Linked DNA regions of Homo sapiens: regions 1 and 3 are each linked to region 2. A link means that fine-mapping ties the variant in region 2 to the expression of a gene that starts in the linked region. Tissue or cell type: monocytes after Pam3CSK4. Region 2 holds a variant in brackets; each other region holds the start of a gene. All regions are shown on one strand. Distances are between the middles of the regions.

Region 1 (8,102 bases), 220 kb before region 2:
GGTCGGAGGCCTACAATTTGGCTCCCCAGTAACATTTCTAAAAATGAGCCCTCCTCCCTCGGAAAGGTAGTAAGTAGTAGCAAAGCATCTCCCACAGCCATGGTAGGTCCCATCCCTGAGAAGCTGCCACATGAAGTGAGCTAAGGGAAAAGCAGTGCTCAGTACCCCATCTAAGAAATGGGGGTGCGCAGTGAACAGAACCTGCTTGTGCAAGGCCGGCCTGACCATGAAAAGTGATCGGGGGTAAGTAGAGGGATGCGTCTAATGGCAGCGGCCTCTGGCCCGCTGTCGGAATAGAAGAGGTATTTTTTGCAACCAGGGCTTGCCTGGCTACTTCCAAATCAAACCTCATGCACCAGCTGCCATCACTACCTTGGGGGTCAGGGCTGCAGCCTGAGGGAGCCAGTGAAGTGATATCCACACACAAGGAGGCTTGGTAAGTGACATGGAAGTGCCTCGGAAATGCGTGTGTCTGGATCGAGTGTCTTGCCACGGACCCACCACACCAAAATCCCTAAAGGGTGGAGAGCACGAGATACCCAGAACAGAGGAAAGAGGCTGGAAACCTAAGACACGACTTGTAAATTACAGGTGGAGACGGAACTTCTCACCACCTCCCTAGCTATCTAAAACTCCTACTCCTTGATCCATTTCCATGAACAAGGAAAAGAAAAAGAGTCTGACTCGCAAAAGCGGCAGAAATATTTAGGTTAGAGTCAAGCAACTTTCTGACCATCTTGGTTCCCTAAGCAGGAAAACGGGACAGATGGCAAAGCACCTGTGCCTGTAGGCAGGGGCAGGGCTGGCCTGAGCAAGGCTCTTGTCTGTAAGTAACTCCACTGCCTGACAGACAAGAGCCTTCCTATGAAGCTGGAGCCACAGCACGTGACTTGCTGTCACAGGAAAGGCCACACCTGGCACTGCAGCCAGGGACAGGCTGCATTCTCTTTACCCAGTGTCCATCTGTGCCGGCTCCAGTTTGTCAGTTTCCCTTCCATAAACCCAGAAACTTCACTAGACAATGCAAGAAGTGTTCCTTCTTAGAGCTGTACCATAAGAGCCTGAGAGCTACTCCATGTCCATAAGAGAGAAGACCAGGCAGCAAAATCCGAGAGGCACTTCTGTACCAGAGGGAGCCCGACAAGTCTAAAGACAGCAGCCACCCAGGGGCAACTCTTCCTTCTGTATCCCTGACCTGATTATCAGAGATTAGCAAAACACAACTTCACCGAGAGGAAGCAGCACCCAGTTTCTGAAGTTTGCAGTGGCTTCCTGCCTCTCCAGGGCCTGCCAGGCTGCTCAGAGCACAGCACACCTCCCTCCCGCCTTTCCCCACACCTGGCCCGACTGTGCTGGGGCAGCAACGTAGCCCTCGCCTCCTGACTCAGTCCCGGAAGGCCAGAGACAAGGCTGGGCCCCGTGAAAGGGAGTCACAGTGCAGCGCTGCCGGCCTGTGGCTGGTCCCGCCTCGTCAGCATCCTGGGACAGCCCTGTGTGCAGCTGGCCACCACCTCCCAGCTCAGGCAGAGGGGCAAGTGCCTCCTCTTCTCCGAGCTGCATGTGATCCTCGCCTGCCCCGCGGGGCTGCTGGGGCTTCGCTGAATCAGCGCCTGTGGAGGCGCTTCTATCAGGCCATCTTTCTCCAGCCCTAGCCGCCCCTTCGCAGCGGACACTGTGCTCCTATCAACGCACGGCAGCGCCAGCTATTCCCACCTTCTGTTCACGTCAGACTGGCAGCAGCTCACGTCCCTGGCACCTCTCCGATGCTCTGAACGGCAGCTCCCTTCAACGTGCCTAGAAACCCCTCTGAGAGGAAAGACCATGCTCAGCAGAAAGCGCTACAAACACCCCAACTACACTGAGCATTCCTCAATGCAGCCACCACGTCTGATTCACCTCAGTCCCCTACGCCTGACGTCGGGCCCGGCCCAGAGCAGTCCACCCCCAGGGGTAGTTGCTTCCACCTCCCTTAGTAGCTGGCAGCCTCTGGAGACGAGAGGCCAGCACCTCTGCTTCTCTGAGGCCTGCTGAACACGGGCCTAGGGCATGTACAAAGGAAGCAATCTGCTCCATAGAGCGTTCCCGCCATGTGACTTGATTCTGAAGCAAGGGGCAGTCAGTCCGTCCCCGCCCCTTTACCTTCATATTCTGAGGCCCCAAGCCGAACTTAGATTGGAGACAGAATGTTTCATTTATCCTGCCCTCGTACGTGAATCTTTAGGATAGCAGGAAAGAAAACGCCTGAAGAAGGAAGATTCTGTAAAGCTCTGTCATGTCAAAATAAAGGTGGGGTGCTCACTGACTATAAGCCAATGGTCAGAAAACCTGTCCAACTCTCTGGGCCTCTCTTCCCCACTCTAATACCAAAAGTACCTTGACCAGGAAGTCCAGACTAAACGGAAAGGCGTAACTTACAACCACAGACATGGTCCTCCATAGCCAGTGACATTTCTAATAAGCATTTGTGATCACATGACCCTCCTGAGCACAGCTGTCCAGTGGCTCCCTACAGCCCAGAGAATCCAGTCCACACCCCTGAGCCTGGCCCTCCTGGTCCTTTACGAGCAGACCTCATGCGCCTGTGTGACTATGCAGGCCTCCTCATTGTTTGACACAATCTCATCCGTTATCTGGTCCTGCTTCCCTTCCTGGAGAACTGCAGCCTCCTCGTCTAAACCCGACTCCGGAGCTGCCTGCCTTCAGGGCTTTCCTGATTCACCCTCAGCCCTTCTCTTTGAGATTCTATCACCTGGGACTTCCCTGAGCCCTGTTCTGTATGATGCTCTTTAGCCACCTGCTCTCCTCTTCCAATGTCCCACGTGTCACTCAAAACCTAAGTTCCATATGGGCAGGAACTACATCGTCCTGTGCATTGAGCCAGTGCTCACACGGAGGAGATGCTCAGGAAGCCTTTGTGGGGAGGTGGATGGATCCAGGCAGTGGATGGGAAGGAAGTTTCCAGTCATGATTAAGCCAAAGGGTAAGTCATCTCTATAGTCTAAGGGGTTGGTGAAATACAGCCAAGTTTGGCAAAATACTCCCTACTTTGCAGGGGTTGGCAAACTACAGCCCTGTGTATTTGTAAGTGAAGCTTCATCAGAACACAGCCATGCTATCTATTTACGCACTGTCTCTGGCTGCTTTTGTGCTACAGTGGCAGAGCTGAGCAGTTGTGGCAGAGACCACATGGTCCATAAAGCCTGAAATGCTATCTGGCCCTTTACAGAAAGGATTTGTGGACACAGGGCTAAGGCAGCGCTTCCCATATATTTTCACATTTCACCTCTTTAGAGGTGAGATTTGTGTAGCCTGTTGATTAACAGTGAAGGCTGCTTGCAGCTAAGAGACACCTGGCCTTGGAGCTCTGGCCACCCAAAGGCTGACAGGATCCGTGTCCACAGCTGCCACCTGAGCCACAGTCCCCAGCAGAGCTGTAGGAAACAGGTGCAGAAACCCATGCTGGCCTTCAGCTCTCCCCGTCCATTTCAAAGCAAAAGTGGCAGCACTGGGACAGACACAAAACTGACACCCAAAACCAATCCTCCGGTCACCTCACAAGTTCATGGTCCTTTCCGTCCTTCAAGAACTTGGGAAAGAATGTCCACGTCTTCCCATGGGCTACAGACTGTGTTCCACAGATGCTGAATCCAACAAGCTCCAACCCTTGCTTAGGTTAAAAATGAACACAAATGGATTAACTTTTTGCCAAGCAAAAGGCCTCAGCATGAACAACCACCCGGTACCTGTGACTCCTGGCTGGAGAGCCCAGCCCGGCGGAAACTCAGAAAGGGTGAAGATGCTGATAGGTCACAAGCCCCTCCCCACTGCCAATGGAGATGCCAGAGTGCTCCAGCACAATGGAGTGTGGCCCACCAAAGCCCCATTTCCTAGCCCGGTGGAGATGGCCCTCGCTCCATTCTACCTCCTCTGTACCCTGTCAGTATCTTCCTCCATTCCCCTGCCTTCCCCCGTCCTGGTCAGAAACACCATTGTTCCCTCTATTGCCCACTGAGCAGTGGTCCAGGAGAAGTACTCCAGCAGGTCCCCCGCCCCCGGATGGGTGCTATTGTTCCTTGGCCCAGGGTTGGGGGCCATCATCTTCCCGTCCCTACCCAATCCGGCAGAGGAGCCTGGCCTGTGAGGAGATGCCATTCCTGCCTCTCCATCCCTCTGCTGCTGCGCTCCATCAGCCTCCCTCACGCCTCGCCTGGCCAATGGCAACAGCCTCTTGCTCATCAGCCTTGCCTCCTGACTCTGGTCCTTGGCTATCCAACTGTCCCAATCGACCCTCTGGAACTCACTATTGTGGACAATGGTCATCATTGAAGGACACACCACCCAGGGCCTTTTAAGAAGTGACTGCAGACTGTGTGTCCCACCTGCCACTTGACTCTGCTCATCCTCTCGGGTCCCACAGCAAGGCCCTTCACACTCCCCAAGTGGGCACACTCTCTCTGTGCATGCATGCCAGGCCCGCCTCTGACTCCCCTCCTGGGGATCCCGTCTGGCTCAGTGGGAAGCCTATCGCTCTTGGTAAATTACTCAGTAAGCACTTCTCTCCTGAGGCCTGGCTCCTCTCCTGCCCTCGGCGGGAGACCTGGGAACGGGCCTGCCAGCGCCCAGCCCAGGGCTGGCAAGGAGGATCCCTAGCAGGGAGGGGGAGACCCACTGAAGCCTTTCTCCCTGCACAGAGGAGGACTCTCATTCTGTTCAAATCCTCTGCACCTCTTTCTTCCCCTCCCTGTACTCTCCATCTGGGTCAATGATTTCACCTTCTACTCAGTTGTCTAAGCTGCAGATTCTGACATTTTCTCCAACTGCTCCTTCTCCCCCATCACAGAGCCTGGTAAGAAGCAGTAGGTGACAGTGAATGGTTTTTCTCAATAAATCTACGTGCCCAAGAAGGGAGACATGGTCTTGGCAGCATCACCAGTCAACATCAGAGTTCGTCCAAACTGACATTCCACAGCATTTCCTCTTTGCCGTCCACACAACCGGCTTCTTGCTTGAACATGCTGGTTACAGGGAGCTCATGTCGCACCTCAGCTGCTCTCTCAAGGCTGCGTCTGTCATCGCGGGAGGTGTATTTTAGCTCAAATTGCCCCACTGGCTTCCCATAATTGTCTTTCACCCTTTGGAACCACATACAACAAATAAATATAATCCCTTAAAAATACCTGGCAGGAGTGCCCACGTTCTCTCCAGGTCTCCTCTTCACCAGCCTTAACCTTCTGGTCCTTCCATCTCATTTCAAGGTGCTTTCAGCTTTCCTGAGTTCCCCAGGTGCCAATTTCCATAGGTTTTTTACCTCCCAGATGATGGCTACCATATTCCTTTAACGTAGCCTCTGCAGGAATGAGGGATTTTTAGAAAGCTGAGACTTCCGAGAAGTCTCATGATGGAAGAATCCAAGGGGATCCCAACACCAGATTGCTCTGGAAAATGTGTTACTGTGACGGTGATCCCATGGGTTAGAGCACATGTTTGAAGGCCGAGCCAGGAACGGAGGATGTGGCCAAAAACCAAAGTGTGGATGAGGCGGAACATAAAACACATACTTCCAACAGCACATCCCCTGTCCTCCTTCCCACCCCTGAGGAGCTCTCCAAGTAGCAATTACTGAATTTGCACTTTATTATAGGGTTCAGTTACAGTATAAAATGATGGTCTGTAGAAATTAACCCCAACTGTGTAGCTGGCAAAAAAGAAAACAAAACAAAAAAACAGGCTGCCTGGCCCAGGGCTGACCAGTTGGTCACCTTGCCCAGTAGCACACTAACAAAGGAACAGAAAAAGAACGAGCCCAGAAAGTCTGGATTTTAGGAGGCTAAGGAAGGATCAGGGAGATGTGGGTTGGTTTTTGCTTGGTTTCAAGGCGCACAGGGGATAGCCCAGAAGCCTACAGGAAAGGTGAGCCGAACACATCACAGAGAGAGAAGCCACTGCTGCCAAGTGGGCTTGGAAGACAGAACGGACATTGGTGCCTACTAGCGACGCAAACCACCTGCACACAGCATAGCCTCAGACGGGGTGAGCGCCGCCACTCACCGCACTATAATTTGGGGCAAGTCACCTTATCTAAGCATCTATTTCCTCATCTGTAAAAGGAGAAAATTTCTAATTCCAGTTGTGGTGAAATTCAAAACTAATTCCTCAGAAAGGGCTGCTGTTACCTCTAAAAACAGTCTTAAGAAATGTTATTTCTTCTGGTGGTTAAAAACTCATTAGGGGCCACAATGCTTTGCCACAAATAAGCAGTGTGGTTTGGAGAGATCTCTGGGCTCTACTCTCCCTGTCTGCAAGGTGGGAACAACGATCTATGCACTGCTGCTTCTCCAAGGGCCACCAGTACAGCAAGTCATGAAATGGCAAACGGGAAAGGGCCTGAGAGAGGACTGTGTTCTATGAATGCCAGGCGCTCATTCTCCCTGACACAGTCATGCTCTAGAACACGACAGCCTGGGATTCAAAGGTTCCTTTTTCCTGCTCCCCTCCAGGATTACAGCAGGGTGCACAGAAACATTGCCAAGTGCCCAGAAAGAGGATGACTTGGGGTGGATGAGGAATACTTTGTCCTGAAAAGGATCCCGCAGCCATCCCCGCACCCACCCACGCCTGAGCAGAGACCCAGCTGTCATTCATTAGCCCAGGAGCTGGTAAAGTGGTTACAGCAGCAGAAGAATCCAACACGCTCAACAGGGTGGTTCACAGGCAGCAATTTAGAGACCCCAAAGCCATCCAAGCAGGGCTTACCATACACGGGTCCAACTTGGAGGGAAGACAGCAAACTCCAGGCTGGCAGTCTGCCCTGAGGCCTACTCCAAGGGAAACTCCTGGCAATGACCACTGACCTCTGCAATCTGCCACCACCCATCTCTACTGAGTACTCGTCCAGGGACACCCCCTTGCACTTACACCTCAGACCTGGGCTGCTGCCCCTCTGTGCTCCTCTTCCTTGTACCCAATGAGCCAAAGCCTCACCAGCCTGCCTTCAGAGTCTGGCTTAAATTGTTGAAGACATCCTCATGACCTATCTCAGGCCAGGCAGAGAACATGCACTCGGAAAATATAAGCTAAGTGAAAACACATACCTCAGATTTCACTGAAATTCAAAGAAAAACAAGCTTTAGATAAAAATGCTTCCTCTGTGGATACAGATGCAATGCAGCCCTTCAGTCTGTCCTTCCAGTATGTTAAATCGTTCTTCACAACCAATTTAAATGAAAAGAGCCCTATTTTAGGCCAGGTTATCTGATCTGGAGTCACCTCAAGTCAGAGGGCCTAGCTACCAGCAGAGCCCATCCTGTCGGCCGCAGCCTTTTAATCCATAGCAGGATGGAATAGAAAAAGGCTTTAGAACAGAACTAGGTTCCATTAATGGTTCTAGCACTTAACCTGGAGCATCAGTTTCTTTTGTAAACTAAGGATACTACTATTGCCAGAAAGGTAGCTGGAGAATTCAGAAGAATGTCCAAGTGCCTGGCACACAAGATACAAATGTTGGCATCTCTCCTTCCCCTTCCCTTCCTACTCCTTCAGTCCACTGCTGCTCCAAATGACCTAAACTGAGGGCTGCTGTTCACCTCATTACTTGGGGCATTTAGCAGACACCTGCATGCAGACACCTTTTGTCCAGTGCTGAAACTGCCTGGGCAAACAGTGGCTATCTTCACTCTGCCCACCAGCAGGGTGGCACAGTTCATCTGCAGAAATGGCAAAGTTCTGCCAAGAGAGACCAAGACCCTCCTCAGAAGGAGTAAGTAATTAGAATGTTGACAACTGATCAGTCAAGGCAAAAAAGTCCTCCCTCAATGCTGGCTGAACAAGGCAAAGACTCCACCAAACAGCCTCCCCTGGGGGGAATGTACTAACTTTTGCAGGACATTAGCTAAACAAGTATTTCTTAGATTTAAGAAAAACCTCCTGACTACAAGCCAAATCTTATTTGCCTCCTTAAAGGTAACACTCAGTCCTTGTCTACGTAACGCAGTTTTTATAAACTTGGAGCATCTGAGGGCTCCAATCTATGTTCCCCACTTAGCTCACCTCTTACCAACAGCCAAGGATGCATCTGACCACCTTTCTGCAGAGGCTCCTGAAGT
Region 2 (8,102 bases):
TGGGCACAGAGCCAGGTGACACCTCCCGGCTTCCCTGTGGTTAGGCATGACATGTGACTGAGCCTTGACTAGTGGGACATGGACGGAAGTGACATGGGCCACTTCTGGCCTGGACCATAAAAACCTTCAATGTGTAATCCTCCAAATTCTTCCCTCATCCAGACGAAAGCAGATGATTCTGAGTTCTAGGAAAAGGTGTCACCACAATAAGGAGGGAGGCTGGGTCCCTGAATCACGTAGTGGAAGGCTCATTGACCAACCAGGAACTCTGTCCTGTGAGCAAGAAAAGTCTATTGTGTTACTGGGGTGGGGGTGTTTATTAGAGCAGCTAAGGTGATACTAATACGCTCAGAAAATAGTTGCTGAACCGAGTTGTTCTGTGATCCTGGATAAAGCACTGCCCTGTCTGGGCCTCAGTTTCCTCAACTATATGAGAAGGCTGGACCAGGTAATCCCTAGGCACCCTTGCTCCTGGGAAAAAGGAGGACTTTAGCTACACACACACACACACACACACACACACACACACACACACACACGCACTCACACTCACCCTGTCACGCACACTCCTGCAGTGGGGCTGTTTCCATAGGGACAGGTCCTGAAATGCCTTTCTGGATACAATTTCTCACGAGCACCCAAACAAGGACAACGTTCCAGAACCTTGTTTCTAACAAATGTCGGTAAAACAAAAACACCCGCTACAGACCCATAAAATGTGAAGACCAACTCCAGTGATAAAATATGTTCGTTTCTATGTATTTTTATAGCTTTCCGGATAATAAAAGGAACCGTGTTCTAATCGGATGCGTTTGTTAAATCAGTGTGCAGTGCCTCTACCCTCCTCTTCATGCACAGAGAGAGCTGCAGGGAGACAGGAAGTAGCAGCTTTTGTCATTACCTTGGGAACCTTTGGGACCAAAGGCCATCCTTATTGCTGTTTTCCCAACTCCTCCAGGAATGGTGGGAAGCAGCGTGCATCAGGGAAGGTAGGAACAGCAGAAGTTGTCAAAGATGCTTCTTCCCTAGCTTCTAGGACAGTTTCTCTTTTTATTCTCATGGGGAGAGAGGTACCAGGGTTGCTGCAGAGATGGGCTGGGGCTTGGTCAGGTAGGCTCTGGGATCACGACGGGGGTTCACACATACGTGCCAGGCACTGTTCTAAATGCTTTGGATATATAATACTAACGTTAAAAAAATAACTTCAGCTTTTATTTTAGATACAGTAGGTACATGTGCAGGTTTGTTACATGGGTATATTGACTAGTCTAAACTTCATGATAACCTTTGTGTAGGCCCTCATTTTACAGAGAGGGAAACTGAGGCATAAGGAGGTTGACAACTTGGCCAAGGTCACACAGCCAGTGAGTAGAGAAGTTGGTATTCCCACGCAGCCAGCTTTGTCTCCAGATCTGCCTCTCTAGGCTAAGGCTAAGGGTTTTTGTTTGTTTGTTTGTTTGTTTTTTTGAGACAGAGTCTCACTCTGTCACCAAGGCTGGAGTGCAGTGGTGCAATCTCTGTTGCAGAGACCACAATCTCTGTCTCCTGGGTTCAAGTGATTCTCATGTCTCAATCTCCTAAGTAGCTAGGATTACAGGCACATGCCACCACGCCCAGCTAATTTTTAAAATATTTTTAGTAGAGATGGGGTTTCTCTATGTTGGGCAGACTCCGGACGTCAGGTGATCTGCCCACCTCAGCCTCCCAAAGTGTTGGGATTACAGGTGTGAGCCACCATGCCTGGCCTAAGAGAAGGGTTTTAATCCATATCCTAAAAGCAGAGGAAGAGAGCAGCAAAGTGAACACAGACTGTATACTGTGGTCTGTGATTCTGCCCCACAGGTGACATTGGGCGACATCTTGAGACATGTTTGGTTGTCACAAGTGGGGATGAGGTGCTACTGGCATCTGGTACATAGAGGCCAGGGATGCTACAAAACACCCTGCACTGCACACAACAGTTCCCAACACAAAGAATGCTCCAGCCCCAAATGTCAATAACCCAAGACTGAGAAACCCTGCTCAGAGGTCAGACGGGCTGCAGCCTCTGCCACTCTCCAGCTGTGTGGCCCTGGGCAACTGACTTCCCCTCTCTGAACCTCAATGACTTTAGGAGAACTTTGGGTAAGGCAATCATGAGACAAAGCCTGACACATAGGAAGTACCCAATAAATAACAACAATGACTGTTTTCCTCTGATTCTCCCCTGACCGTCGCCATCTCTCACCCTGCCCCAGGCCCTGCCACATTTCTTGACCAAAAAACAGAACCAAGCTCTTAACAGTGAACTTGGGAGAGTTATGAGTTTATATTCCCCTGCTCCCTTCTAGCTCTGCCGACGTCTTCCGCTCCTCTAATTACTTATTTAAAGACTATCGATTCCTTGGGCTGCTGCTGGGAGGCCTCGCAGAATTGCATGTCTCGCAAATAGCAAGAGAGCCGTGGCCTAGCGACTGGGGCCGCAGCCTGACATAACCAGGCAGGGGGTTATTTTCGCCCGGGATACTTGTGAAATATTCATGTGCTGATTTAAATACTGAGGATGTCAGAGCTGGAAAGGGCCAGAGAGATCATATCGGCAGAGTTTGCCCTCACTGGAGACTAGGCAGCTAGATGGGGTGGGGAGGGTGCCTGGCAGAGATGGGCACTGGCAGAAGCAGGTTCAAGATGGATACCAAGGCCTCAGACTCAGTGCGTTGTGACCTTGGGCAGGTCGCTCGCCCTTTCTGGGCCATTGATCCCTCATCTGTAATGAAAGGGAGTTGTGAGGCTGAAATGGGATGGATATGTAAGAATAACTCAGTATAGAGTGGGCCTGCAAAATGTAATTGCATTTGAAGTCAGCAAGCCTGTCTGAGCCTGGATTTCCTCCTCTGGAAACTTCCTGGGGCTGATCAAGTTATATAAGATGACAGATGTGTGAACACTTTATACCAAGCAAAGTGATGGCTGACAAATGTTAAGTGTGTTTAATTAGCATGTGTGAGTGCCCACTATGTCCCAGGTGTTGTGCTAAGTGCTTAAAAAAACAGGCAATAGCTTTCTGAAACTCCCAACATGCATGGCGGAAGGTATCGTTATCTGAGTTCCAGTGGTGTGCTGGTAAACTGCTGGGGGAAGGTGAGGGGGGATCCCTGATGTGTAATGTTTGCCAATTTCCTTGGTGTAAATACTCCCACTATGGTTGATTTCAAGCTACCAATATGATATCACTGAACACAGAATTGGGAAGAATCTGCACCAATGGATCTCTGTCTTACAGAGGAGGAAACTGAGGTCCAAAGAAATAGGTTGAGTGCCTTGCCCCAGATAATTGGCTGAACCAGGTCAATCTCCCCCTAAATCTCACCACTTAACTACCTCCTAGGGTTGAGTCAAATGGGGTCGCCGAGCCTCAGAGATGGGAGTGACTTGGCCAAGGTCACACCTCATGATGGTCTAGAACTAGGACAGGGCCACACCTCCTTTCTCCCAGTCCAGTGTTCTTCCCATCAAGGGCTCAGGCCAATGTGGGGGCCACACTTGCCCTCCCCTCCTACCCCAAGCTTGCTCAGGAAGGCAACAGAACCTCACTTTACAAAGCGCCAACCCTAGGCTGGGCCCTGTGCCAGATAATTACATACGACATTCTCTCATTGATTATTCCCAGCCGACCTGTGAGGCAGGAATTCTGATTGCTAATTGATGGAGGAGGAAGCCCAGGCTCAGATTGGTGAAGTGACTTTCCCAAGGCTACAGAGCCAGGACGTTGTAAAATTCAAAACCACATCTACAGTCACTCCAAAGCCCACATGCTTTCCTCTCCAGCATTCAGCCGGGCCCTCATCCAGCCCACAGACTGCCTGACTCATGGAGGGCTTTAGATGGAAAGCCCGCAGGCATTCATAGACCCATTTGTTAAAAAACAAAACAAAACAAAACAAAAAGTACCTTTCTCTGCCTCAGTGATTTTTTTTCTTTTTCTTTATTCTTTCTTTTTTGAGATGGAATCTTGCTTTGTCATCCAGGCTGGAGTGCAATGGCACAATCTCGGCTCACTGCAACCTCCGCCTCCTGGCTTCAAGCAATTCTCCTGCCTCAGCCTCCTGTGTAGCTGGGATTACAGGCACGTACCACCACACCCAGCTAATTTTTGTGTTTTTAGTAGAGGCAGGGTTTCACCATGTTGGCCAGGCTGGTCTCAAACTCCTGACCTCAGGTGATCCACCTGCCTCAGCCTCCCAAAGTGCTGGGATTATAGGCATGAGCCACCACGCCTGGCCGTCAGTGATATAATTTTGAATCAGCTATGATTTTTAAACAAATCAATTATCAGGCCCCACACCAGACCATTTGAATCAGGATCTCGGGGGAACCTGACCTCCAAGTGGCTCTGGTGTTCCAAAGCTTCCCAGGGGCTTCTGATGTGCAGCTGGTTTGGGGAACCACTGTCCTGTGTCTTAGTCACTCTTGGTGACAATTGCTGATGGGAAAGCATCAGA[C/T]CTGAGGGTGAAGAAGGATCCCCAAGTGTTAATAGGCACATGAACCTTGAAAAGGCCAAGACTGTATTGGGCAGGTGGTTATTTCTGAGGTCTGAAATGGACACACATCAGTATCAGCCTCTTCCTGACTGCAGCGGGGACCAAATCTGTCCCCTTGCCACAAAACTGACCTGAGAGCTGAGGGCACTGGACAACCACATGATTCTCCCCCAGCTCAAGAGCGTCTTTCCCTGTCGTATATTAATTTACTCACCGCGTGTTTTAGATCTGCCTCTTGGGGGCCAGATATTGCACTGGGTGTTGGGGAAGCAACAGCGAACAAGGCACGTAGCCACATCCCTCAAGGGGTATACAGACCCATGGTTGTAACTGGACGAAGATGACTATGTTCACCACAATTCCTGGGAAGAGAGGCTGCAGTGTAGACCCCTCTCCCGTTAATGAAATCTATAGCAGAGGATGTATTGTTCATGCCTGGCTTGTGACAGGCTCAAGAAGGAGTTGAGTTTCACATTGAGGTTGACATATTGCAGATAGAGATATGAGTAGAGGAGAGTGAGCTGTGGAAAAGGGATCTCAGGGGGGTTTGCAGAAATAGCAGGGGTGGCAGGTTCTGGCTGGGTCCAGAAGCTTTTAATCTATTACTTGAAAGCATGAGGAAACACCTGAAGGAGACGTGTGTGATATGATGGAATACAATGAGACTGTCAAACTAGCCTGGGGAGGTGGGGGAATCATCGTGACCATTCATTGAGCTGTGATTGTGTGCCAGGTTTTGTGCCACACATGCCATATGCATCATGTCTCAAGTCCTTGTAAACACTTTACAAGATAGACTATTATGCTCATCCTATGGGTCAAGGAAATAGAGGCTCAGAAAGGTAATATGACCTGCCTAAAGACACACAGCTGGTTTGTTGCACAGCCAGAAGTTTTGTTTGTTTGTTTTGTTTTTTGTTTTGAGACAGGGTCTCACTCTGTCACTCAGGCTGGAGTGCAGTGGTGTGATCTTGGCTCATGGCAAACTTCGTCTCCTGGGCTCAAGCGATCCTCCCTGCTACTCTGGGATTGTAGGCATTAATCCTTAACCTCCAGAGTAGCTGGGACTGTAGGAGTGTGCCACCATGCCCAACTAATTTTTAAATTTTTTATAGAGACTAGGTTTTGCCATGTTGTCCAGGCTAGTCTGGAACTCCTGGGCTTAAGTGATCTGATCTGACTGCCTCAGCCTCCCCAAATGCTGAGATTACAGGCGTGAACCACCGGGCCTGGCCAGAGCCAGGATTTGAACCCAAGTTTTTATGATTTGAAAACTCATGCTCAAAGCCCCTACACTGTAGAAGCTGCCTTGGTATCTATTTCTCCCTTATCAGAAGGCCCTCATGCCTACAGTTAGAGGAAGGGACAGAACTTGCATGCACACCAGGCCACCTAACGATGACACACAAGATGAGCATTGTCAACCCCATGTTATGGCTGAGGGACTCAGCCTCAGAGAAGTAAATGAACTTGCCCGAGGTCATAGATGAGAAATAGCAGAACTGGGATTGGAGCCCAGGGTCTTTGCCTGGCCCCACCTGCCCTCTGCCCTCACAGCCCTATTACTCCTTCCATGATGGGGGTGGCAGACATCCCAGGCTGGGTCTCCAGAGCAGGCCCAAGTCTGGGCCTCAGGGCAAGGTCATCAGGAGGCCAAAGAGGGAAATCTTTAAATGGTGTCAGGTTCATTGCCTTTGTGGCAGAAGGAAGAAAAAAGAAGAGGCACAGAAGCAAGGAAGATGGAGCTGATTCCTGCTTAACTCACACCCTCTCGTTTGGCTGAGTCAGCGATGCAGGGAGGCCTCCCTGGCCTCAGCACAGAATCGCAGGAATCTGCAGATCTGCTGGAATTTCTCTGCACTGGCTGGCACGGGAGGTGACGAGAGCAGAGGAAAACGACTGCTGTTTTTATTCTCTGGGGCTGGTTTCTTTCTCTCCCCACTCCCCCCCGGCTTCTTGCTCATGTCTTTGAAAGGCCACTTGTCTCTGACTTGCACAGCACTCAACAGTCTAGAAAGCCCCTACAAAGAGCTCTTCGGTCCCCAAAGTGATTTATGATTTTGAAGTGCTTTTTGGATTATGAAAGGCTAACCTACAATAGCCTCCTCACTGCGGCAACATTTACAAAGTGCTTTGCAAGTCACACGGCATTTTATAGTTTGCAACATTCTTTGCAGCCAAAAGGTGCTTACCTCTCCAGAGGGGACTTCAGAGTTTGCAAACCCTGGTCACACCTCTTCCTTTATTTAAACTGCAGTACAGCTCTGTGATAAAGGCTGATAATAATATCTATCACTCATATGGCGTTCACAGTGTCCTAGATATTCTTATGAGCGCTTTACATACGTTCACACATTAATGGTTCAACAACCCCGCAAGGTTGCCACTATTATGATACCCATTTACAAATAAGGATGTTGAGGCACAGCCAGGTAAACCTTGCCCAAGATCACAGGGCTGTTAAGTAGTGGAGCTTGGATTTGAGGCATTGATGTTTGATAGGATGACGACACATTTTGTATCCATTTTTCATATGAGAAAAACAGAGGTCTAGGGCAGTAGCCAGTTCTGTCATGCCCCCCATGTGACCTCAGACTGGTCTTGGCATGTCTCTCGGTCTCTTTTATCCTTCTCTGCAGAACTGAAAGGATAAGCCCCGCCCTGCTCTCTTCTCAACTCTGAACAAATGTGAGGTGTGGGGGTGATGATGCTGGAGGGAGGAGGCCAAGCCTCAGCACCCCCACCCTGGCCTTGCTGCCTGTGCCAAGGTACCAAGCCTTGCCTCAGCTTTCCCCTCTTGGGTGTGGCTCCACTCTGTACAGAAGGCCACCTGGAGGCCTTTCCTGAGATCTCCTATCTTACAGGTGGAGGGAGAGTAGGGTGATGGGGTGGCATGGAGGAGGGAACTTCACCGAGGGCCCAACTCCCATCTTCTGGGTAAAGTCCTCTAGTGAGAGCCCAGAAAAATCACAAGAGTCCAGCCCCCCAGCCATTGACCAGCTGGAGAAACTGAGGCCCCAAAAGTGGAGGTACTTACAGTCACTCAGAGAAGTGGGTGCAGAGGTGGGGCTGGAATTCATCTCCATGCCCTTCCCATGGCCTGTGCTGGGAGTGTGGCTTCAGATCTGAGAAGGCCTTAGATCATTTGTTCATTCCTTCATTCATTTGTTCATTCATTCTTTCATTCAGCTAGTCAGTCAACAAACATTTCTTGAGTGTCCACTCTGTGTCAGATGCTAGATTTAATAATTGTGGGTATGGCTTGGTCCCTGCCCTCATGGAGTTTATAGTCTAGCACTGTGCTGCCCAGTGCAGTAGCCTCTGGCCACATGTGGCTGTTGAGCAGTTGAAATGCAGCTGTTCCAAACTGAGATGTGTTACAAGTGTGAAATACACACTGGATTTTGAAGACTTAGTATGGAAGAAAGTAAGATATCTCAATGATTATTTATTTATTATTATTTTTTTTTTTAGACAGAGTCTTGCTCTGTTGCCCAGGCTAGAGTGCAGCAGCGCAATCTTGGCTCACTGTAGACTCTGCCTCCTAAGATCAAGCAATTCTCCTGTCTTAGCCTTTTGAGT
Region 3 (8,102 bases), 65 kb before region 2:
GGATATCTAAAGTGCCTACAAATTGTCCCAATTCATAGAATTTCACTGAACAATACATATAATCCGAACACTATACCAGAATTGAGTATTCTGAGCAAGAAAGTAGTGCGCACCCCAAGTCAATAAAATGAACACAATGGACTTAAGAAATATAAGGAGGAAACAATGGCTATGTTGGAGAGAACTTTCAAAGCTCACTCTATTCATCTTATATCCTACTGCTCAAATTCTCTGCCAAAAAGCAAATGAGGTCAGACATGCTCCCTATATTATATTGTATACATATATCAAATCTCAAAATACTCAGAGTTTCAATCGAAGGGACATTATACTCTAAAAATCTTTCCCTCCAAAAATAAAATCTTACAGTAATGCCTTCAGAGCATTCTTTTGCTGCCATGACACACTTCAAATTTGGATTTTACGAATCATTTGCTTCCAGGTTTTTTTTTTAATATTTATATTAACGGATTCCGATTACTTAAAATTTGGTGTTCTGCTCCGCCCTCATTATGTTTAGGCAAGATTCCCACTTCCACTCAAACTTATTATTCGAACATACAATGGCTGCATTAAGATACTTCCTAAATCGACAAAAGAAGAAAACTAATCAACCCAGAAAGCTCCCAAGCTACCAAAGCGAACCTTTTATTTGAAATCATACTAGGTACCACACTACACATTACGTGAAGCCCACAGAGTGATAATTGAAGTTATTTCTGCAACATGATGAAATTTATTTCTTAGCAAAATCTGACAAGACTTAATTTTCAACTGTCAAAAGGGAAATCGTTTTCCAAGATTCTAGGAAACCTTGCTTACTGAAGCAGTCTCAAAGTAGTTTGCTTAATCCTTTCAAACCCCTAAGAATCTAACACAAGCCACAGAACAGTGAATGAGACTTGCACTGAAATAAATGTCTGTGTTCAAACCCCTAAAGGTTACTTCCCATGTGTTTGGCAAGCTGAAGGCCATATGTCCGCCCAACCCATAAGTGTCTTTCCTCAATAAAGCTAACATTACACTTCCCAACTCAAATCAAAATACCAGAGAATCCAAAAGCCTCCAACTAAATTTTACCTGAACCATTTGGGAGAAAAAGTCAACAATCCAGATCAGTTATTCACGCCTTGAAAGAGTGTTAAGAGTCAGAAAGCTCCAATTCTGCCACTTTTAGGAGCTAGGTGTACATTACTTCTGTCTGCCTATAGCATGGGACTCAGATATTACATCACCCCATGCTGCCTGAATACTGACCCATTACCCAGAAAGCACCAGGGTATCTGAGACACTGCACCAAGGTATCCCTTTCTTCCTCTCTTATGCATAGCCCTTGAATGCTACTGGCCACTGGGCCTGGTCTCTTCCAGTTTCACAAAGACATCTGCCCTGCACCTGCTGCAATCCCATTTCCATTCACTCTTGGTGCGCTCCTCGTGACCCTGTGTGGCCCTTCTGTCCACTCGTCAAACCAATATGCTAGGATGATACCCACTACACACCTCTCCCAAATTTGGGGATGTGCACTCAGCTCTCCCTTACCCCTTCCCCCTTCCTCATTTACTGGGTTCTGGAATTAAAAGCAGGCTCAACGATCTCTCTGACCCTAGGAGTATGAACTTTCAGATATGACACTGAGTTTAATGTCCTCCACTTTCCATTAACATCATTCCAGGATCCAGGTCCCCCCACCCCTCAATCTCCAGTTTCTCTCAGTATGGAATTTAATCCTCTCCATTTAGTTATTTTTCCAACTTCTGCACTCTGCCTGATCTTCCTTAGACTCTCAGTGACCTAAAAATCTTGGCCCCTTTCATCTCTCAAACTCAAAGTGTTCCAATCTCTCCCCATACTTCCACTCCTTGGATCTTCCATACTCTCTTAAGCAACCTGTGTTCCTAGCTCTCTCCAACTTAAGCAGTCATTTCCTGCCCTAAACCTGGGCATCCTATTTCCCCCACCACCACCACCACCACTCCAATCCATCACCTATGCCTTTCTAGTTACAGACATGTCCACATACACCTCTGCCTTGCCCTTCCCTTACTCCACTATAGGTATTAAGCATTCTTCTACATCCTCTACCCCAAAATAGCCTGTCTACCTTCCTTCTTTCTCCCTACCTCCCTTCTCCCTACAGCACAAAATTCAGTGCCCCAAACCTGTGCTTCCCTCCCTCCACCTACTGTACTCCAGACCTGTCCACCTTCCCCTCCAGTCTATCCCGTTGTCCCCCTCTACTGATTTCGTTCTCACCCTCCCCTCCACCTTCCTCCTCCCCAACCGCTCCACACTTCCCGCCTCAGAAATCTTTCCTTCCATTTGTCCCCACACTTTACCTGCCACTCCAAGAACACTTCCCTTTCCCCACCCCCTTTTGCCCTCCACCTCACACACTCCACGCCACCCCACACCTGTCCCTCTCCCCCAGCTCCTGCCCCTAACGTCCTCCAACACTTGCCAAGAACCCCTCACCCTCCGTCCTACCTCAAAATTCCCTCTCTTGCTGATCCCACCTTCTTCCATACTTCCTGCATAAACACCCTCCATTTCACGCACTTCTCCCGCTATCCTTTAAATGCCCCACACACCTCCTGCTCTCCATCCCCATCACCCTTCTCCTACTGTCCCCACCTCTCTCTGCAAGCCCTCAAACTAAGTCTCTGCCCCAATGAACTTCCCCCTTCCACCCCATACTCCTCTTCCCTGAGCACCAGATACCTGCCTTTTTATCCTTACATGTCAACCCCCTCCCGCCTCCCTGCAGGCTCCCCTATACACCTGGCCACACACTCCCTCACACCCCTCGCAGGTCTCCTGGAGCCCCTGGGCCTACCCTTCATTTCCCTATCACCCCAGAAGCCTAGGCACCCTGCTCCCCTCCCTCCCTTTCAGGCGCTCCCTGCCTGCCCTCACTTCCCCCTGCCCCGACCCCCTCCTCCATCGTTCCCCTTCACGGGCGTCCCGGTGGCCTTCCTAATACCCGCCCCACTCCCTGCCCCTGGCACGCAGCGCTCCTTCCAGTCCTGCTCGAGTCCCCAGTCTTCTCCCTCCATTCCCACCCCACTCGTCCCTGCCCTCCCCAAAAGCCCCCTCATTCCCTCTTGAACCCCACAATATAGTGCCCCCCCCCACCGGACGGAATGTCCTCCATCTCGCACTCGCCTGGCCCAGGGGGCCCCCCAAACCTGCCTGAAGGCTCTCCTCCTCCATTGGGCCGGATCCCTCTGCACCCCTATTTACCCCCAAATCTGCCCACACCTTCCGCCTGCCCCCCGAAGCCTCTCCCCAGCTCCTGCCCCCAATGTCCTCCAACACCTGCCCCGAGCCCCGAGCCCTCCGTCCCGGAAGACCTCCCGGCACCGCGTCCCCCAACCCTGCCCACGCCCTCCCCTGATCGGCCGGGACCCCGTCCCCGCGAAGGTGAGGAAGGCTGCCCGCTGCCCTTGCCCGAAGCGGCCGGGGCACCGCAGCGGCGGCGGCGGCGGCCACAATGCCGGAGCCGCGGGGCCGGGATTGCTCCCTGCTCTCCGCCTCGGCCGCCACCGCCGCCGCCGCTGCTAAGGACGCACAACAAACAATGCGGGGCCCGGGCCGGCTCCGCCAACCGCCTCAACCGCCGCCTTAACCGCCGCCCGCCCGGGACGGCCCGCCGCGCAGGCGCCCGCCCCGCCGCCGGAGCCTACCCGCGCCGCCGCGCTCTGCCCGCGCCCGGTACCCGCTCCCGCTCCGCCGCCGCCGCCACCTCGCCCGCTCGCGTCTCCGGCTCCTCTGCCCAGCGGCGGCGGCTGCGGCGGCTGCTGCCCTGGTGGCGCTCGCGGCTCCGGTCTCCGCTTCGGCGGCGGCAGCGGCGGCAGCGAGCACGTGACACCGTCGAGCGCGCCCATTGGCCAGGCCAGGGGGCGGGCCCCGCGGCTGCTGGGGAACGGAAAGCCCGCCCCCTCGTTCGCCGCGCGCCCCCTCCACGCGCGTCCTGCCGCACCTGAGAGCGCCGGCCAGCGCCCGCCGCCGCCTTGCTGTGCCGCCGCCTGCGCCAAGTGCGCACCTGGGAGCGCGCAGGGAGCACTCGCCGCCGGCGGCCTTATGCACCTGCCAGCGGACGCTTACGTAAACTGCGTCCCCGCCTTCCTCCCGGCCCCAGGCCCCCGCTCGCTGCAGCACCTGAGCCCCGCTGCGCTAGCGGCGTAACTGCGGCGGAGCGGAGACGAGCTGCGCTGGGAGGCTAGCGAAATGCACGGAAACTTCGTAACTTCCGAACCTGGGAGCTGCGCCGAGCCGCGGCGGCTAGCCGCCTTCCCCGGGCCCCGCACCCCAGTGCGGGATGCCCCCCAACCCCAGCAGCCACACAAATGGAGTAGGCGTCGCACTGCCTCCCGAGGTAGAGGGGCAGGCCAGTAGGCTTTGACTTGTGCCACCGCCCACCTACTTGCTGGCTGTGTGACCTTGGCCAAGTTACCAAGAACCGTTCTGAGCCTCAGTTTCCTCATCAGGAAAACTGGGACAATAATTCCAATTTAGGAGCTGTTGGGGAGATGGCATAAGACAATAGGTGTGAATCCTGGCACACAGCAGTCGCTGAACAGAAGCTGCTACAATCACCTCTCCTTCACCTGCCTATAATGAACCTCGCTGGGATTGAGTTTGGGCCCAGGACCTCTCTGACCTCCTTATGGTTGGGTCAGACTTTGGCTGAACACCTACCAGCTCTGTGCCAGGGGCGGCGCTGGGGAAGAATTAAAGGTTCGCTTTCTATTCTACAGTCCCTGGCCTCAAGTTCTTGGTGCCCAGCATTCTGCTTGCCAGTATACAGTCCCTGCTGTATACCGGGGGGTTTGCAGGCTGCAGGGATGCACTGGCAAATGAGACAATGTCTTTGCCCTAAGACAATTCCCAGCCTGGAGCAGAAACGACCTGACCACTCAGTGCCAAGACAGAGGACCTTGAACAGCCCAGGGGTTGAGGAGGGACTCCCCACAACAGCCCCCTTGGGGCCCCTTTTCATCTTTCTAACACACCAGGCTCAAATATTTTAACAGCTCTGTTTCATTCACAGAATAAAGTGTAAAAAACCCAATTTCAACTGAAAAGGCCTTGGTGATCTGGCCTTAAGCTTCAAGGTGCACGCCCTTCCCTTTGCCCCTCCTTCAGGCCAATGTGACCCTCCAGCCACACAGAACTACAGTACTGTTGTTTCCAGAGTATGCCCAGGTGTGTAGGAGCCTGAGTCTCCTGAGACAGATGCCAGGCCGCAAATCCCTTTCTAAACCCTCTCCCCACCTCTGACCACTCACACCTTCCTTGACCCTCCTGAAAAAAATCCTGGGTATCCTTATCAATCAGCTCAGAGTATATTCTCTGGAGATCCTTGGCTGCCTCAGACACATGGTCTAAGCTCCCTCGGCTTGAACATAGTCCTGTTAAGCTATATGTATTCTCATGGCACTAGATTGTAATTGTTTAGCTGTCTGTCTCCTCCCTGGTCTCTCAGTCCCTTGAGGACAGGGTCATCTTCCTGCCTAAGTGTGTTAGGGAAGACTACACGTGCACATGACATGAGATCATTAAAGCTGGGTTTTGTAGGATGCCCATAAGTATCAGAGGGAGAAGAGGCGCCACACTGTAAAGATCCAGATTCACTGCACACTAGCTGTGTGATCTTGGAAAATCAATCTCTCTAGTCTAAGTTTACTCATCTGCCAAGTGAGACTAATAGTATTGCATATTGTAGGGTTGTTAGAAGGATTCATTGCAACCGTATATCTAAGGCACTCAGCACGGTGTCCAGCACTTGGTTACATTTTTAATTTTTTTAAAATAGAAGAACAGCATGGCATTAAGGATTCAATAGTATTTCTTGTTTCAATATCTTTATTGGGTTTGTAACTCCAAACACTGAGACAAAAGCATGCAAATTATATAAAAGGAAAGAAAGTAAAAAGTTAGGCCAGACGCAGTGGCTCACGCTGGTAATCCTAGCACTTTTGGGAGGCCGAGGCGTGTGGATCACCTGAGGTCAGGAGTTCAAGACCAGCCTGGCCAATGGGGCAAAACCCCATCTCTACTAAAAATACGAAAATTAGCCGGACGTGTTGGTGTGTACCTGTAATCCTAGCTACTCGGGAGGCTGAGGCAGGAGAATCGCTTGAACCCGGGGGGCAGAGGTTGCAATGAGCCGAGATCCCGTGATTGCACTCTAGCCTGGACAACAAGAGCGAAACTCCGTCTCAAAAAAAAAGTTAATGTCTCTCTCCCTTCCTGCCCTTGACTCCACTCCCACTACCCCAATCCCAACTCCAGAGTAGTTACTGTTAATTTTTCATGTCCCTCATTACATGTCCAAAGAAAAAAGAAAGTTGCAGAAAATTATTTATCTGTAATGTGTATGTTGGATTCTCCATAGAAAAACGTCAGAAAGGATTAAACACCAACCACTATTGGTTATGCCTGGAAGATAGAACTGGGTGTGGGGATGGAGGACTTAAAAATTTCTGCATTGTTTTAATTTTTTAAGGATACATATGCAGATTTTTGTTTTGCTTTGTTTTTGAGAGGGGTCTTGCTCTGTCGCCCAGGCTGTAGTGCAGTGGCGCAATCTTGGCTCACTGTAACCTCTGCCTCCTGGGTTCAAGTGATACTCTTGCCTCAGCTTCCTGAGTAGCTGAGATTACAGGCGCCTGCCACCATGCCTGGCTAATTTTTGTATTTTAGTAGAGATGAGGTTTCACCATGTTGGTCAGGCTAGTCTTGAACTCCTGACTTCAAATGATCTGCCCGCCTCGGCCTCCCAAAGTGTTGAGATTACAGGCGTGAACCACCGTGCCCAGCCTGTTTTGTTTTGAGACAGAGTCTCACTCTGTCACCCAGTCTGGAGTGCAGTGGCACAATCTCGCCTCACTGCAACCTCAGTCTCCCAGGTTCAAGCCATTCTCCTGCCTCAGCCTCCCAAGTAGCTGGGATTACAGGCGTGTGCCTCCACACCCGTCTAATTTTTTTTGTATTTTTAGTAGAGATGGGCCAGGCTGGTCTCGAACTCCTGGTCTCAAGTGATTCTCCCGCCTTGGCCTCCCAAAGTGCTGTGATTACAGGCGTGTAATCACACATAGATTTTTAACAATTTACTTGAGGTATAGTTTACACATAAAATTATGCATTTCAAAAATGTACAATCCAATGATTTTCAGTAACTTCACTAAGTGGTGCAACATTAACATAAGTCAGTTTCAGAACATTTAGCATACCTTGCCGGGCACGGTGGCTCAGCACTTTGGGAGGCCAAGGTGGGCAGATCACGAGGTCAGGAGATCGAGACCATCCTGACCACCATGGTGAAACCCCGTCTCTACTAAAAATACAAAAATTAGCTGGGCATGGTGGTGGACACCTGTAATCCCAGCTACTCAGGAGGCTGAGCCAGGAGAATGGCTTGAACCCAGGAGGCAGAGGTTACAGTGAGCCAAGATCATGGCACTGCACTCCAGCCTGGTGACAGAGGAAAACTCTGTCTAAAAAAAAAAGAACATTTAGCATACCTTATGGATCCCCCGTAAGACTCTCATGCTCATTAAGTGTTAATCCCATTTCCAACCCTGGCCACAAGCAAACACCAGTCTACTTTCTGTCTCTATTTTTTGTTTTTTCTGGTATATCTGATACTTCTTTTTTTTTAGACAGAGTTTTGTTCTGTCACCCAGGCTGGAGTGCAGTGGCGCAATCTCGGCTCACTGAAACCTCTGTCTCCCAGGTTCAAGCGATCCTCCCACCTCAGCCTCCTGAGCAGCTGGGACTACAGGCATGCCATTGTGCCAGGTTAACTTTTTGTATTTTTTTTAGTAGAGACTGGGTTTCATCATGTTGCCCAGGCTGGTCTCAAACTCTGGGCTCAAGGGATACTCCCTCCTCAGCCTCCTAAAGTGCTGCAACTACAGGTGTGAGCCTCTGCACAGGGCCTGATACATTTTTGTAAAAAAATCAAACAGACTGGTTGGGTGCCGGGGGCTCATGCCTGTAATACCAGCACTTTGGGAGGCCGAGGTGAGCGGATCGCCTGAGGTCAGGAGTTAGGGACCAGTCTGGCTAACATGGTGAAACCCCATCTCTACTAA

Which allele goes with the higher level. Positions count from the first base shown, and alleles are read on the strand shown. Sizes are in standard deviations (SD) of each study's normalised expression.
With allele C in place of T in region 2, the expression in monocytes after Pam3CSK4 of the gene that starts at base 4,726 in region 1 is lower (moderate effect, 0.64 SD a copy in Quach 2016).
For the expression in monocytes after Pam3CSK4 of the gene that starts at base 3,837 in region 3, allele T in region 2 goes with a higher level than allele C (large effect, 0.76 SD a copy in Quach 2016).

The links. PIP is the estimated chance that this variant, and not a neighbour inherited with it, causes the effect.
Region 1: it holds the start of MIR600HG, and the variant in region 2 is fine-mapped to the expression of MIR600HG in monocytes after Pam3CSK4 (Quach 2016, PIP 0.95).
Region 3: STRBP starts here. The variant in region 2 is fine-mapped to the expression of STRBP in monocytes after Pam3CSK4 (Quach 2016, PIP 0.95). The same link has a PIP of 0.9 or more in monocytes after LPS and monocytes after R848.

Annotation. Positions count from the first base shown.
Region 1 is chr9:123,110,752-123,118,853 of GRCh38, forward strand. MIR600HG (MIR600 host gene) reads right to left here and starts at 4,726. Exons shown (of 1, transcript NR_026677.1): 1 at 1-4,726. MIR600 (microRNA 600) reads right to left here and starts at 892; the gene lies at 795-892. It also overlaps a transcript of STRBP not described here. RefSeq lists an enhancer at 1,208-1,357.
Region 2 is chr9:123,329,446-123,337,547 of GRCh38, forward strand. LOC124902266 (a long non-coding RNA gene) reads right to left here. Exons shown (of 2, transcript XR_007061760.1): 2 at 7,956-8,102. Among named protein-coding and RNA genes, the nearest start is that of CRB2, 23 kb to the right of the region's middle. The variant C/T (reference allele first, on the strand shown) is at 4,482.
Region 3 is chr9:123,264,750-123,272,851 of GRCh38, forward strand. It overlaps STRBP (spermatid perinuclear RNA binding protein), which reads right to left and starts at 3,837. Exons shown (of 19, transcript NM_018387.5): 1 at 3,687-3,837. RefSeq lists silencers at 3,563-3,612, 3,783-4,262 and an enhancer at 3,663-4,163.